Linked DNA regions of Homo sapiens. The protein of the gene in region 1 purifies or fractionates together with the protein of each later gene. This does not show direct contact. Each region holds a gene or a part of one and is shown in the gene's direction. Other genes may lie near its edges.

The links.
Region 2: the proteins of GAB1 (region 1) and PABPC1 purify together in Homo sapiens (affinity purification with mass spectrometry; one large-scale study listed by BioGRID and IntAct). This does not show direct contact.
Region 3: the proteins of GAB1 (region 1) and DSG1 purify together in Homo sapiens (affinity purification with mass spectrometry; one large-scale study listed by BioGRID and IntAct). This does not show direct contact.
Region 4: the proteins of GAB1 (region 1) and MET purify together in Homo sapiens (affinity purification with western blotting; 3 studies listed by BioGRID and IntAct, with this or other methods). This does not show direct contact.

The regions. Positions count from the first base shown.
Region 1 is NC_000004.12:143,437,876-143,441,375, forward strand, and holds part of GAB1 (GRB2-associated-binding protein 1), read left to right. Parts: intron 1-123; coding exon 124-725; intron 726-1,926; coding exon 1,927-2,012; intron 2,013-2,203; coding exon 2,204-2,507; intron 2,508-3,500. UniProt on the Homo sapiens protein: Adapter protein that plays a role in intracellular signaling cascades triggered by activated receptor-type kinases. Plays a role in FGFR1 signaling. Probably involved in signaling by the epidermal growth factor receptor (EGFR) and the insulin receptor (INSR).
Region 2 is NC_000008.11:100,708,589-100,712,088, reverse strand, and holds part of PABPC1 (polyadenylate-binding protein 1), read left to right. Parts: intron 1-2,357; coding exon 2,358-2,630; intron 2,631-2,865; coding exon 2,866-2,956; intron 2,957-3,500. UniProt on the Homo sapiens protein: Binds the poly(A) tail of mRNA, including that of its own transcript, and regulates processes of mRNA metabolism such as pre-mRNA splicing and mRNA stability.
Region 3 is NC_000018.10:31,316,818-31,320,959, forward strand, and holds the start of DSG1 (desmoglein-1 preproprotein), read left to right. Parts: upstream 1-1,342; 5' UTR 1,343-1,483; coding exon 1,484-1,531; intron 1,532-4,142. UniProt on the Homo sapiens protein: Component of intercellular desmosome junctions. Involved in the interaction of plaque proteins and intermediate filaments mediating cell-cell adhesion.
Region 4 is NC_000007.14:116,696,196-116,699,695, forward strand, and holds part of MET (hepatocyte growth factor receptor isoform b preproprotein), read left to right. Parts: intron 1-2,875; coding exon of another isoform or gene 2,876-2,889; coding exon 2,890-3,500. UniProt on the Homo sapiens protein: Receptor tyrosine kinase that transduces signals from the extracellular matrix into the cytoplasm by binding to hepatocyte growth factor/HGF ligand. Regulates many physiological processes including proliferation, scattering, morphogenesis and survival.

The DNA.
Region 1 (3,500 bases):
GATCACACAAAAAATCTAATGAGAAAAGCCCTATCTTTTGATTGCTTAGCGATAAACATGTTTATAAAAAATGTATTCTTAGTCTCCACCTTGTTTATTCTGTCATTAACAATTTTTATTTAGAACGCATGCTGATTCTGCAAAATCCACCTCTTCTGAAACAGACTGCAATGATAACGTCCCTTCTCATAAAAATCCTGCTTCCTCCCAGAGCAAACATGGAATGAATGGCTTTTTTCAGCAGCAAATGATATACGACTCTCCACCTTCACGTGCCCCATCTGCTTCAGTTGACTCCAGCCTTTATAACCTGCCCAGGAGTTATTCCCATGATGTTTTACCAAAGGTGTCTCCATCAAGTACTGAAGCAGATGGAGAACTCTATGTTTTTAATACCCCATCTGGGACATCGAGTGTAGAGACTCAAATGAGGCATGTATCTATTAGTTATGACATTCCTCCAACACCTGGTAATACTTATCAGATTCCACGAACATTTCCAGAAGGAACCTTGGGACAGACATCAAAGCTAGACACTATTCCAGATATTCCTCCACCTCGGCCACCGAAACCACATCCAGCTCATGACCGATCTCCTGTGGAAACGTGTAGTATCCCACGCACCGCCTCAGACACTGACAGTAGTTACTGTATCCCTACAGCAGGGATGTCGCCTTCACGTAGTAATACCATTTCCACTGTGGATTTAAACAAATTGCGAAAAGGTCAGCTCTAGTTGACTTCTTCTCTATTAGAGGTTAATGATAGAAAATCGATTTTTCTGAATATTTGTTCTTTTAAGCGTAGTTAAATATACTATGCTACAAAATACAGTCCATTTTTTTCCAGCTCTACAGCTACCTGGAAGGGTATATTGCATTCATGCTCTGCTGGAAGGGAAAAAGAGTTGGAGTTTCTCACCCCTGAAGAAGTATGGCCTTAGTAATGCCTTCCTGCCTCAGGAAGTGTGCCCTTCTCTCTCCCACTTTCTATAATCCTGGGTGGATAGGCCCTCTGTTGGGACAGAAGGGCAGGAAATGGACCAGCCACAAAGCCTCTCCGAGTCATACCCTTTCCTGTATTTGTGTGCCATTATGGCCGCTTCTAAGTCACATCTGTTGGGCTCTATTTCCTTCCTTCCTATATAAGCAGTTTTTATGTTGTGTCTAACAGGTGATATTCTGTTCCAGTCAAGCCATTATGCTGTTTGATTTTTACTTGTGTTTAAAGAGCTGAATCTTCTTTCCCCTTATCACTACCCACTTCACTCATTGCTAGTGAGTATACTTTCCTATACTGTCTCCTAGAGTCTGTATCCAAAAGTTACAGACCTTGAGAGGAGAAGAAAAAAATGAGTCTGGGTGATTCTCTGAGATTCTCAAAGTCCTACAAATAGAAAGCTAAAGTTTTTAATGCACATATCCTAAACAGTATGTGCTAAAATTTCTGTATTTTGTGGTAGAGTTTTCCTCAGCTATCTCCAAGATTTTAATGTATCTGTGATTATTACTTAAATCAGTACTTATTTCACCATTCAATAACAGTATCTAACTCCTTTCTTGAAGTGACTGTATAACCTGGTTATCAGTTAGTGAGATGTAAGTTATGCCCAAGGTGGTGCAAACGATGAGAAAATAGAGGTGTTTCTCTTCATCTTTAGATAACCTATCTTATCCCAGACTTAGACATTCACTCACACTCAAAATTAGATATTGGTATTGGTTAGCATATGAGTGAGTGTCTGCATTTTCTAGTGGTTTAATATGCCAATTCAAGACACAGTTCTATGAGCATCCTTTTTAAAATTCTGTGTGTGTGCATGTGTGTATGCATATGTATAATGAGAGAAAGATAATAGGTCATCCCAATGACCCTGAGAGCTGGCAAAGATGGGAATAAATGTTGATAGTTTGTTCTTTATTTTAGATGCTAGTTCTCAAGACTGCTATGATATTCCACGAGCATTTCCAAGTGATAGATCTAGTTCACTTGAAGGCTTCCATAACCACTTTGTAAGTATAATTGACCTTGGCATCATCAAGTGTATTTCATTGTCTAAATCTTCATAATTAGTGCCATGAGACTAAGTGATATCATGAAATAAAAGTACGCTGAGATCCATATGAATGAGTGTGACTTACAATTGTGTTTTCATGTGTGACAAGAGTTTTTGTTTATTAAAAGAAATATATATGTGTTTTAGAAAGTCAAAAATGTGTTGACAGTGGGAAGTGTTTCAAGTGAAGAACTGGATGAAAATTACGTCCCAATGAATCCCAATTCACCACCACGACAACATTCCAGCAGTTTTACAGAACCAATTCAGGAAGCAAATTATGTGCCAATGACTCCAGGAACATTTGATTTTTCCTCATTTGGAATGCAAGTTCCTCCTCCTGCTCATATGGGCTTCAGGTCCAGCCCAAAAACCCCTCCCAGAAGGCCAGTTCCTGTTGCAGACTGTGAACCACCCCCCGTGGATAGGAACCTCAAGCCAGACAGAAAAGGTAAGGAGAGCATGGCAAAGTAAAAGGCTTGGGGAGTGCCAAGTTAGATCTATCTTTAACTGCCATTAAATCCAAAATAGAATTTGGACTAGAAATTCTGAAATATTTCATAGTTCCATAGCCATCAAGTTATTTAAGCAAAGCAGTACTGCCATTTATAAATTAACAATTATGATATCACATGTTGATGTGAGGTGATATTTATAAGTCTCCTATCTCTAGAGCAGAGGTTACAAGCTGAAATACTCACGGGGTGAGCGGACAACTGGGGAGAATTAGAAGAAACTGGACTGCCGTAGCCCCATCTAATGGGAGTAACTAACCTACACTGCTACAATCCTTTGTTGACTTGTGAAATGATGCACCCATGCAGGCAAATCTTCTGGTATATCAGGAAAAGCCAGAGATTTCAGATTTTATATGTATTATCTCTCAATTTTTAAAGTTCTATCAACTAATTTAATTATTAAGAAAACATTGCAGGCCAACCCAAACACTTCTGCAAGCTAGATAATGGCCTTCAGCTGCTATTTAGTAACCTCTTCTCCAGAGTATATAATATCAAATCAGACTTAAGATTATTAATGTATTTGACATAATTATTTAAGAACAGTGAGACTGTATAATCTTTCCATTCTGTTCATATAACAACTTCTTAAAAATTACTTTGCCTTTGCTGGGGTAATACATGCTTCTAGTCTGTCATTTTTTTTTCCATGCTGGCCTTCATAAGTAACATTAAGTTCTAAGGTAACATAGTTTGTTAAGAAGTCTGTAAAAGAAACTGTTCAGCCAAATTGGGTAATGCCTACCCAGGTTTTTTAAATTGGGGTTTAAGTTGTTAAAACACAGACAATTTGATTTGTTGCACCATGCTGTTAGTGTGGCTTAATCTTGACAACCAAGTAAATTAGCATAAATGTAAATGTGATGAATGATACAATATCTGGCTTACATTAGGGTGTTTCAGCACATTTGAAAAGTCTCATGTGC
Region 2 (3,500 bases), on another chromosome or scaffold:
ACTTATAATTGTTACTATAGTTCTGATCTGTTTATTCATTTCTACAATTCATTCTGGGTAGTCAAGCCCCAGTTCCCTCCCCTGCCCCCTAGCAGTAAGAATAGAGATCATATTTTCTTTTATTTGAAATCAGAGATTAAGAAACAAAGCAGTAGTATTCTAGTACAAATTCTGAAATCTTGATTTAAGAAGTTCTCTTCTAGATGTTTTTGTCTAGCATCCGTGGGCCAAGAGTCCCCCTATATGCAAGGTTTTGTGCATACATAATTTTGCTGGGGTTGGGGAAGAGTGCATAGAAAAAAATTACAACTCAACTGAACTGGAATGACGCTGTGGCTGATCTTTCTAGTCAGCTTTTCCTGGCAAGTCCGAGGAAGCTTCTGTGAGAGTGAGGAAATGTTAGGGGAAAGGTGGTTGAATACAAGTAAGATGGAAGTGCCATGGTTGTCTTGTGTTTCAGATTATGCTTTTTATGTAAGAGTATTGGAGTACGATAGAATTTATTCCTGAATGTTTTTGTCTTCAGTGTGTTCCCTGGATATTGTTTAAATTGAGTGTTGTGCATCAGCATATTTTGAATGTATGAAGCATGCATGTTTTTCTGTTTCTTGAGACAGGATCTCATTATGTTGCCCAGGTTGGAGTGCAGGGGCATGCCACAATCACAGCTCACTGCAGCCTCAGCCTTTCCTGGGCTTAAGCCAAGCTTGTCCAACCCGCTGCTTGCAGGCCACATGCGGCCCAAGAATGCTTTTAATGCAGTGCAACACAAATTCTTAAACTTATGAGGTGTTTTTTTTTTGTCTTTTTTAAAGACGAGTCTCACTCTCGCCTGGGCTGGAGTGCGGTGGTGCAATCTCAGCTCACTGCAGCCTCCGCCTCCCGGGTTCAAGCGATTCTCCTGCCTCAGCCTCCTGGGTAGCTGGGATTACAGGCATGTGCCACTACGCCCAGCTAATTTTTGGTATTTTTAGTAGAGATGGGGTTTCACCATGTTGGCCAAGCTGGTCTTCCAACTCCTGACCTCAGGTGACCTCCTAAAGTGTTGGGATTACAGGCGTGAGCCACCGTGCCTGGCTGGTTGTCTGTCTTTTTATTGATTAAGGGAACATTTGTTTTATTTTTTTGAGATGGAGTGAAGTGGTGTGATCTCAGTTCACTGCAACTTCCACCCCCTGGGTTCAAGCAGTTTTCCTGTCTCAGCTTCCCGAGTAGCTGGGATTATATGCACCTGCCACCATGCCCGGCTAATTTTTGTATTTTTAGTAAAGACGGGGTTTCGCCACGTTGGCCAGGCTGGTCTCGAACTCCTGACTTCAGGTGATCCACCCGCCTTGGCCTCCCAAAGTGCTAGGATTACAGGCGTGAGCCACCGCGCCCGGCCAAACATTTGTTTTATATTGGAAATATTTTCTTCGAATTTTCCACTTTATAGACCTCACTTTGTGTGTGTGTCATCTTAGAAAGGTTTTCTCTCTATTTCTACATTCTATGTTCAGATTCAGAATCTACCTGGCATTTAAGATTTTTCAATGTAATGTGAATTAAGAGTTCTACATTTTTTCATTTGTCCCAGTGTGTCATGTATTGAGTAGCCCAAAGTCCTTTTTCCCCAGTACTTTAAAATGTTAACTTTAGCACAGTGAATTCCCATAATTGCTTGGGTATATTTCTGGCCTCTGTTTTATTACCGTTTGTTCCTATGCCACTCGCATACTGTTAATGTAGTTTTATAGCATGCTTATATATATTGCTGGCCTAGCGAGTGGTTCTTTGCAAGTCTTCATTGCTCATTTAAAAGGTCTTTGCAATCAATTTTAGAAGAACCTTCCTCTTGAGTGTTCTTTATACCGTAATATTTATGGATCCTCTGCTCTTGAATGTAAAAACTTTTATTTTAAGATGTGGGTATTGTAAGATTCAACTACTTTTTTCTCAAAGGCATAGTGAAGCATCTTGTCAGCTTGAATTGTTAGAATAGTCAAAATTTAATTGGGAAATGCTTCCAGTGGTGCCCAAAAGTCAATTTAGTAGGCCTGGGATGTATTTATTTAGATAATTAAATTTCAATATTGAAAATCCAATCAAATTCAGTATCTAAAATCTTTAAAAGTTTCTGTGCAGCCTTCACTTCTGTCAGTTCTCTGACCTGGCTAGGGTAATGCATATGTGTAGTTTGCCCTTAATAATTGGGTATTAAGGAAAAATTGTGAACTCAATGGGTAAATACAAGATGATTAAGCATTAACAGGGTTTAGTTATTTGATTCAGTGATTTATAATTGTCTAAATTGTAACGCTCTTTTTTTGCTCCTCATTCTACCATTACGTTAACTTTTTTTTTCTTTTTTTTAATAGGTTATGATGGAGGGTGGTCGCAGCAAAGGGTTTGGTTTTGTATGTTTCTCCTCCCCAGAAGAAGCCACTAAAGCAGTTACAGAAATGAACGGTAGAATTGTGGCCACAAAGCCATTGTATGTAGCTTTAGCTCAGCGCAAAGAAGAGCGCCAGGCTCACCTCACTAACCAGTATATGCAGAGAATGGCAAGTGTACGAGCTGTTCCCAACCCTGTAATCAACCCCTACCAGCCAGCACCTCCTTCAGGTTACTTCATGGCAGCTATCCCACAGGTAGGTTTTAGAAGGCAACCAGAACCATGAAGGTTTTCGTATTTGGTCATTTCTAGTGTTTTTTGTGCCCCTCGCCCCGCAAATGTGAAACATTAAGAAAGGGGAATTATGATTGAGTAGGAAAAAATGCTTGAGTGTGAAGTCCTGGTAAATGTTTTGAAAAAGTACATATAATTTATTGCATTATTTGCTTTTTTCTTCAACTGATAAACTCATGTGCTTTTTTTCCCTGCAGACTCAGAACCGTGCTGCATACTATCCTCCTAGCCAAATTGCTCAACTAAGACCAAGTCCTCGCTGGACTGCTCAGGGTGCCAGACCTCATCGTAAGTCTTTTTTCTTTTAATTAAGGTTGGGGATTGAGTTAAAAATAACACATTGGGTAAATCAGCTCTTCTATGTCAATGTTAGGTTAACTATTGCATTTCACATAATTTGTGGTTATGGATGTTCATTTTTATAGCATTTAAAAGCAGTGCTAAGATAGTAATGTCTACAGTGGTTTGATTTCCCTTTATAAAAGTTTTGGGAATAGGTACAGCTCTTCATTTTTTATTTATTTATTTATTTATTTATTTTCGAGACAGAGTCTCGCTCTGTTGCCCCAGGCTCGAGTGCAGTGGCTCAGTTTCGGCTCACTGCAACCTCCACCTCCCAGGTTCAAGCGATTTCTCCCTGCCTCAGCCTCTGGAGTAGCTGGGATTACAGGTGCCCGCCACCACGCCCAGCTAACTTACGCATTATTAGTAGAGATGGGGTTTGACCACGTTGGCCAGGGTTGTCTTGAGCTCCTGATCTCAGGTCATCTGCCCACCTCAGCCTCCTAAAGTGTTGAGAGTACAGGCGTGAGCCATGGCACCCAGCCAATTT
Region 3 (4,142 bases), on another chromosome or scaffold:
TTATTTATTTACATCTGCTATTTACAATCATAAACATTCTTATTCACTGCAAATAAACATGGGCAGCCTATCTCCTCCCCTCCACACTGTATGATGGATAATATGGAAATTCAAACCACACATCTTCTTTGCCACAAATCTGTAGTGAAATGACAGCCTTCTATAGACCCTCTGACCCTCAGAGATTTTCTTCCTTTTGGAGACATTTTGAGTATCTTTTTGACCATAATCAACATCTTATCAGGTAGGTCTCTTGTTCTAAGTAGCCGTTTCAAACTCTGAGGGTGTCCAGTGTCTATGAGCTTCCTGCCACTCACAATATTTATACTAGACGTTGCCAGGGGAAGAGAAGAGAGTCCAAAAATATGTCCAAATGCTGCCCTGTGAAGGTTGCTATTTATTTTCACAAACCTCAGGGCTGCATTCAGTTTCCCGTCTACCTGTGTAGGCAGCCATTTCTTCAGTGTATTCCCTATGTTCTAATTGGCTCGCTGTACAGATTCTTGGCTCTGTGCTTAGGAATTGTCATTGACTTTTAACCCACCTCACCTGCTGAGCAGCTTTCTGTGTTTTCATTAGTATTTCAGGCACCGAATCTCATTTTTAAAGTTATTATCAGGATTTTAATTGGTGGTTCTCACTATTCACCCTTAAGTTTAGTAATATTTAAATTTTTATTTTGTTGCATTTAATAAAAGAATCATAAAGAAAGAAAAATAATTAGGGAGAGAAAATAATTTCTTTAGAGGGAAAATGGAGGATTCCTTAGACTGAAGGCTGGTCAGTTAATGGGAATTGTGACTTATGCAGAGGATCTAATAATTGTAAGTATCATGGTTTTACTTGTTTGAATTAATAACTTTAAAAAATCTCAGTCTTGCATTAGCATATTTTCTGTCTCTTAACAACCGAAAATAACTGAAACTTTCCCAACATCTACTAAAATGGAAAGTTTGTCATTTTCTACTATGACCTGAGGGTTTGGCTACAAACAGATAATGGAATGAATAAGATGAGCATTCAAGTTATACCTGCCTGTTTAATATGGGGAGAAACTAAACCACCTGTAAAGAAAGCATGGGGTGAGAAGCCCCCATCACCTGTATAACCCTCGGTATTTCTGTTCACTTTAAGAGCCTGCCACTGAAAACATTCAGTAAAGGAGTGAATCTTCCTTGCCCCATCAAGAGTCGCTTTTCAGCTGGAGGAAGGGTGTGTCCCCAAGTTTTTACCTGGGAGCAATGATGATCTTGTCAAGCATTTCAGTGAGACCAGCCCAAGTTTTTAGGGTGGGGATCCAGACTGGTTATACGTACCTTCAGTCCTTCTCCCAGAGGAAGGCAGAAACACCTCAAAGCCTGCATGTAAGAACATCTACTGAGAAATTATTTTAATCAGACACCAGCTGAGTGGGAGAAAGAAAAAGAACAGAGAAGAACAAACAAAACTCCCTTGGTCTTGGATGTAAGAGAATCCAGCAGAGATGGACTGGAGTTTCTTCAGAGTAGTTGCAATGCTGTTCATTTTTCTGGTGAGTGGATTCTGGTAAAAGTCCTTCATAATCGTGCCCATTGTAAACAAGTGAAAACTTTTTAGAAAATGTTAGTGGGCATTATTTCTAACCTAAACCCATTGAAAATGTATATTAATGACAAGATGATTTTATGAACTAGATTTTTCAATAGCATTTCTCTCTTTAATTGAAGACTCAAGATCATGTTAATGCCTCAGTGTCAACTCATTGTATTACATCTCTGACACTGAAGTCATTGCTAAGTCATGCTGGGAAAAGACTGAATTTAGGAAATTCCTATCGCTAGTTAGTAGCACTTTGTCGTTCAAAATCTCTTCTGCAAGAGGGCTTTTAAACTAAATATCACAAGTGTGTCTGGATTTTTAACCTGTTTTTTTTTTTATTTTTTTTGTGTGTTTGGTGGTGGAATTACTCTAATTTTTAAAACATAAAAATAGCACCACATAATTTAAAATCGTAGCAGTTTGTGGCTGGTCTCGCTATCCAAATAAAGTCATCAGTTGCATATTTGGTTAGAATCTGTATCACTACTATAAAAAGCCCCGCACTATTTAACTATGATTTTATTTAAAACATTTTTAATTTCAAAAAACGGCAGTACAGGAGGTTTATAAATGACATATTAAGTGAAGAAGTGGCTATAATTAAAGAGTAAGTATAATTATTATTACACTCGATCTTACTACTGGAATGTCAGTGATGACTGCGATATAAAAGTTGTGCACTTGATCGTCTGACGAATGTAATGAAATACTTTATCATTGCCCCCTTACATGTAATTAGTTTTCTTGCTGTAGAGATAATACTAAGTGCACCACTAATGTATTATGTCAATTTCACTTTCAGTGAAAATTTGAAAATTGTAATCTCTCTCATAGTAAGGTTAATGTAATTCAAAAAGGCAGGTGCCAAGTAAATTGCCCTCCAGCTTGGCAGGATGTATAGTGCTGTGGTTCACATTTGTTTCTACTTGCTTAATTTTTGAACTGGAATGTTGGGTTGGTTGGTATAATAAGTTAGATCTTTGATTCAAAGTATGCTGGTTAGTTTGAATTCAGTTTTATTAACTAAGGCGGGACATAATCAGTGGATTTAGTTATAAATGAGCATCAGTAAGCTGGTGGCTTTGGTTCCAAGCTTTCCTTCAAACATTAGTCCTATCCCATGCTCTTTTCAGTGGATATTTAGGATCAGTTGATTTCATTACTTAGGATTTGGTAGGGATCACTGATCATTATACAGTATGTCATTTGAAATATGAGAGTTTCATATTGTCAGTAATCAAGCACTTTTACTTAAAATTTCAAATAAATTTGATCCATTAAGAGCTATTATAGTTTTAGTTGATCAGCTTGTTCAGATAGGTGTACACTAACTTTCATAGAATCTCTAAGATGTGCCTTATTTGTTGATTTATTTATTTCAAATTAATTATAGCATATCAAATTTCTTTAAACAGCCACTTCCTATTTAGTCATTCTTCAATAAAATGTATCATCATCAAAATCATATATCTTTATTGAACTTTCTCTAGCTGTGCCTAGATTTTTTTTTGTTGGCTTATGGGGGTTTTTTTGGGAATGGGGGAAGAGGAGGTTACCTTATTTTATATTGAAATTAATCACAAGTCTCCCACATGCCTTATGAAAATTTTTTCTCAAAGAACTTACACTATCATGAATTACAATGTTTCATTTTCACGTTGACATCATAGGTTTTTTTGGAAAACATTTCACTTTCTAAGGTTTGGAAGATCAAAATTTATTTTAAGTACAGATTTTACCACATGGGATAATTTTGGTAATTGTGCTTTGGAGTTTCCTAATCTGTATTTTTCTTTAAAATACTTTTTTTCTTCATAAAACAACCACCACTATAGCAAATTCTTTCAGTTATCTTTCTCCTAGTCTCATTATAAATGCATGCTTTTACCAAAAAATGAAAAAAAATTTATGTAAAGTCTTTATATTCGTCTCTACTCAAAGTCAATAAGCGGGAACCTGCATTAGGAAGCGTATTTGTACAATTGTTAAGGCCTTTAAGATATTTAAATTGGTAGTGTCTTTTAAGCAAATCTACCTGAGAACTGGGTAACTATTTGTTTGCAAGCATACTGTGTATTCATCTCAATGCATCTGAAGGTTGTGAACCTTGTTCAAATGAGTGGGTTGAATCAGGGAGAACAAAGCTGGAGGAGCTGCTCTTACAGCAATCAAGATCGCTCTATGGCTATTCCATTGTTCTGACAAGTCTCCTGGACAGGCAAGAGATTACACCTGCTATAACACTGCAAGTCAAACACATTTTGTTAATTCTGCATCTATTTTTCATTCTTCTTTTTGTTTCCATGTAATCAGTGTATGGAGTAGAGAAAGGAGTTAGAATGTATTTTCTCTAGGCCTGAGAACAATGCTTCTTATGCACCAAATAAAAGAAATCTATGTGCATGTATATGACAATGGTAAAAAGTACAGCATGGTCACTGTGGGAAAGCAAAACAGAGCCAGAGGGATCTCTATGGTTTTAATGATTTCTGAAAATTACTTGCAACTTTGCCAGGTCCAATTAGTCCATTTAAGTCAATACAAATCTGAAGATGTCTTTTTCT
Region 4 (3,500 bases), on another chromosome or scaffold:
GAGACTCGGCTCTAGCATCATTTCCAGTCGAGTTGGTCTCCCTTCCTCTGCATTCTGATAACTGTTAACCATCAAGTGACTTGAGCTTCCCAGGGAAGGGCATCATGTCTTTGTAGACATCCAATAAATGTTAGTAGAAGAAAGGGGGGTCCTGCCAATAATCATATGTCTTTCCCACAATTTAAACTCCTTTTCACCCTGTTACTACTTTTTGCTTGTCTTCCCTTTGATAAACATTCTACTTCTTCATCACCCATTCCCTCAATTTAACATCTGATACTACTATAGAAACTACTGCCTTGAAGATCAACAAACGGGTTCCATGTGGACCAACGTCCTCCTTGAGACCCTCACTTGGCTTTTGTGACACAGTGCAATATTTGCTCTCTTGATGCCTCACTGACCTTAACCTTCCTTGACTCCTGCATAGATTTCTCAACTGTGGGTATCCCCTAAGATTTAGGCCATTTGCCTTCTCTTCTTTCATCTAGTCCATTCATGAACACACCCATTCCTGGTTTTAACCATCACCTCTGTGCAGATAATGTGCAAAGTTTATTTCTAGTCGGAGTGGAGTCTCTGTTACTCTGCCAATCAAGTTCTAAATTTTTATTCCTTCTAGTGCAGCAGTGGCAAATACCTGACACTCATGTGTCTCACTCAAGACAGATACTGTTTCACCCAAGACTGATCATGCCGCTTTCCCAGTCAAGGCAGGCTTCTCAGAATCCTTCTCATTTCCGCCTCTGTTCTTTGGCACTAATGCTCTGTCTGCCCAGAGTTTTCATTCTTCACTTGTTCCAGGCACCTGCTTCCTGGTGAATAATGTAAAACCTGCTAGTCATCCTTATAGGAGAATATGCACTCATTTCCCAGCAGCACACCCGACTCAACGTGGTTAAAACCAATCTACCATTCCCATATATTCAGCCTAACTTCCCAGTGCAGTCTACCCTAGTTTTATAACTTGTTCTACTTTTTCCAGATAACTGCTAATCATCTTTGTTTGTCTTTGCTTTCTTTTTTGCACTGTGTTTGATATATTAGGGTATCAAATCCTACTTATTCAAATATGTCCCTTATTCATTCCTTCTATCCTTGGTGCTACCATATTTGTTCTGGCTCTTGTTACCTCATTATGGGATATAAAAATAGCCTGTCAACTGGTCTTTCCATTGCCAGGATCTCTCTGTTCTAAGCCACCCTGCCTCCAGATCAATCTTCCTAGAGTAAAACCTTCATTGTATGACGGTCTAGCTCAAAATTCCTTAATGATTATTAATCACCTCTTAAAGTCCCCAATTCTTAGACTATTAGTAGGGTAAAATTATTTTTGATTTGGAGTCAAAAAATTTTGGACGCAAATTTTGGCTACTACACTTAACCATTATGTAACTTCGAATTTCGGCTTAATTTTTATTCATCATTTATTCAGTATCTATTTGTTTAACACCTTCTGCATCTCAGGCTCTGTACTAGGTACTTGGGATACAATGATGAGCCAAGCAGACCTTGTCCTTGCTCTCCTGGACCTCACAACATGGTGAACTTGTCTCTATTGCTCATGATCATAATAATCCTAAGTACAGGCTGTGCTTTTTTCCCTTGATACTTGTAGCTTTTGGTTTGTGCTATGCAGGGTATTGTAATACCATTTGCAGTGCCACAATAATCAGCATATATGTGTTATCACTCAGCCACATTGCAGCTTCACTGAAGGGCAGGGGCTATGTCCCATTTCTCATAGCGCAAGCACAGTGCCCTGCACATACCAGCTGCTCAGTGATTTCTGATGTGGTTTTTGTAGATCCAGGGTTAGTCTTTGGCAGTCATGATGCCTAGTATGTTTTTAGAGGCTCCCTTTGTCCTATCAGAATTATGCTATTTAAAAAAAAGTCATACCTATTTAGTTTATATTCATTCTAAGGCCTCTCCTTTCCAACCTACTACCCTGCCTATAACTATTATAAGGAGAACTCACAATGTTTATAACTTGTGCACCTTAAGTTTTAAATACTGAATAACAGGCCCATTCATGTTTCCTCATAGAAATACTGTCTATATGCATACAATGAAATGTTAAAATAATGTTCTTTTTACTAAATAGCTTTTTGACTTGGTAATGAACAATATGTTGTTTTTCCCTGAGAAGTAGTTCTAGGACTTTAGTTCTGAAGATTATGTTGTATTTTATACATTTTCAGCCTCCTGTTTTTCAGTTCCCAGTGATCTTACATTAAACATTTGTCTGTCTAAAACAATAGGTTAACTATAGCCAAATTATAACCATACCATTCCTCTCCACACAAAATCCTATAAACAGCATGTGATCATATTGCTTCTAGAATTTATGATTGTTTTCTTCCAAAAGGAAGCTAAATTTAGCCTAGTAATTCTACATGCGCTCAAGAAAACAATGCCTGCTGTGATTTCTAGAATAAATGAATGTGAACCACAGTTCCTTTACTTGACTAACAGAGAAAGTTTAAATATCAACCTAGTCATTAACCACAGTTATTAAACCACGTTAAACAACCAGCAAGGGGTTAAGAAAGAAAGTTGCTATGTTTTTTCTTTCATTGCTGAATGAGTCTAACTTAGTTACTGTATCAACCTTAATACAGAACATTGTTTGCATCTCAATGGTTCTCTAAAATTATTCGTTCATGGCTTGAGTTCTAAAATTAAACTATGTGGAGTCATGTCCAACCGCACAATGCATCTTTATGTGAAACTTGCTAGAGTTTTTGTTTTCCTTCTATGTAAAAGTCCAGTTGGGAAGCTTTATTTCTGATAGATTAAATGGTATAGGTCTTTCAGTTTTCTCTTCATTTCTGACAACTGAACTGCTCTCGCCTTGAACCTGTTTTGGCAGATAAACCTCTCATAATGAAGGCCCCCGCTGTGCTTGCACCTGGCATCCTCGTGCTCCTGTTTACCTTGGTGCAGAGGAGCAATGGGGAGTGTAAAGAGGCACTAGCAAAGTCCGAGATGAATGTGAATATGAAGTATCAGCTTCCCAACTTCACCGCGGAAACACCCATCCAGAATGTCATTCTACATGAGCATCACATTTTCCTTGGTGCCACTAACTACATTTATGTTTTAAATGAGGAAGACCTTCAGAAGGTTGCTGAGTACAAGACTGGGCCTGTGCTGGAACACCCAGATTGTTTCCCATGTCAGGACTGCAGCAGCAAAGCCAATTTATCAGGAGGTGTTTGGAAAGATAACATCAACATGGCTCTAGTTGTCGACACCTACTATGATGATCAACTCATTAGCTGTGGCAGCGTCAACAGAGGGACCTGCCAGCGACATGTCTTTCCCCACAATCATACTGCTGACATACAGTCGGAGGTTCACTGCATATTCTCCCCACAGATAGAAGAGCCCAGCCAGTGTCCTGACTGTGTGGTGAGCGCCCTGGGAGCCAAAGTCCTTTCATCTGTAAAGGACCGGTTCATCAACTTCTTTGTAGGCAATACCATAAATTCTTC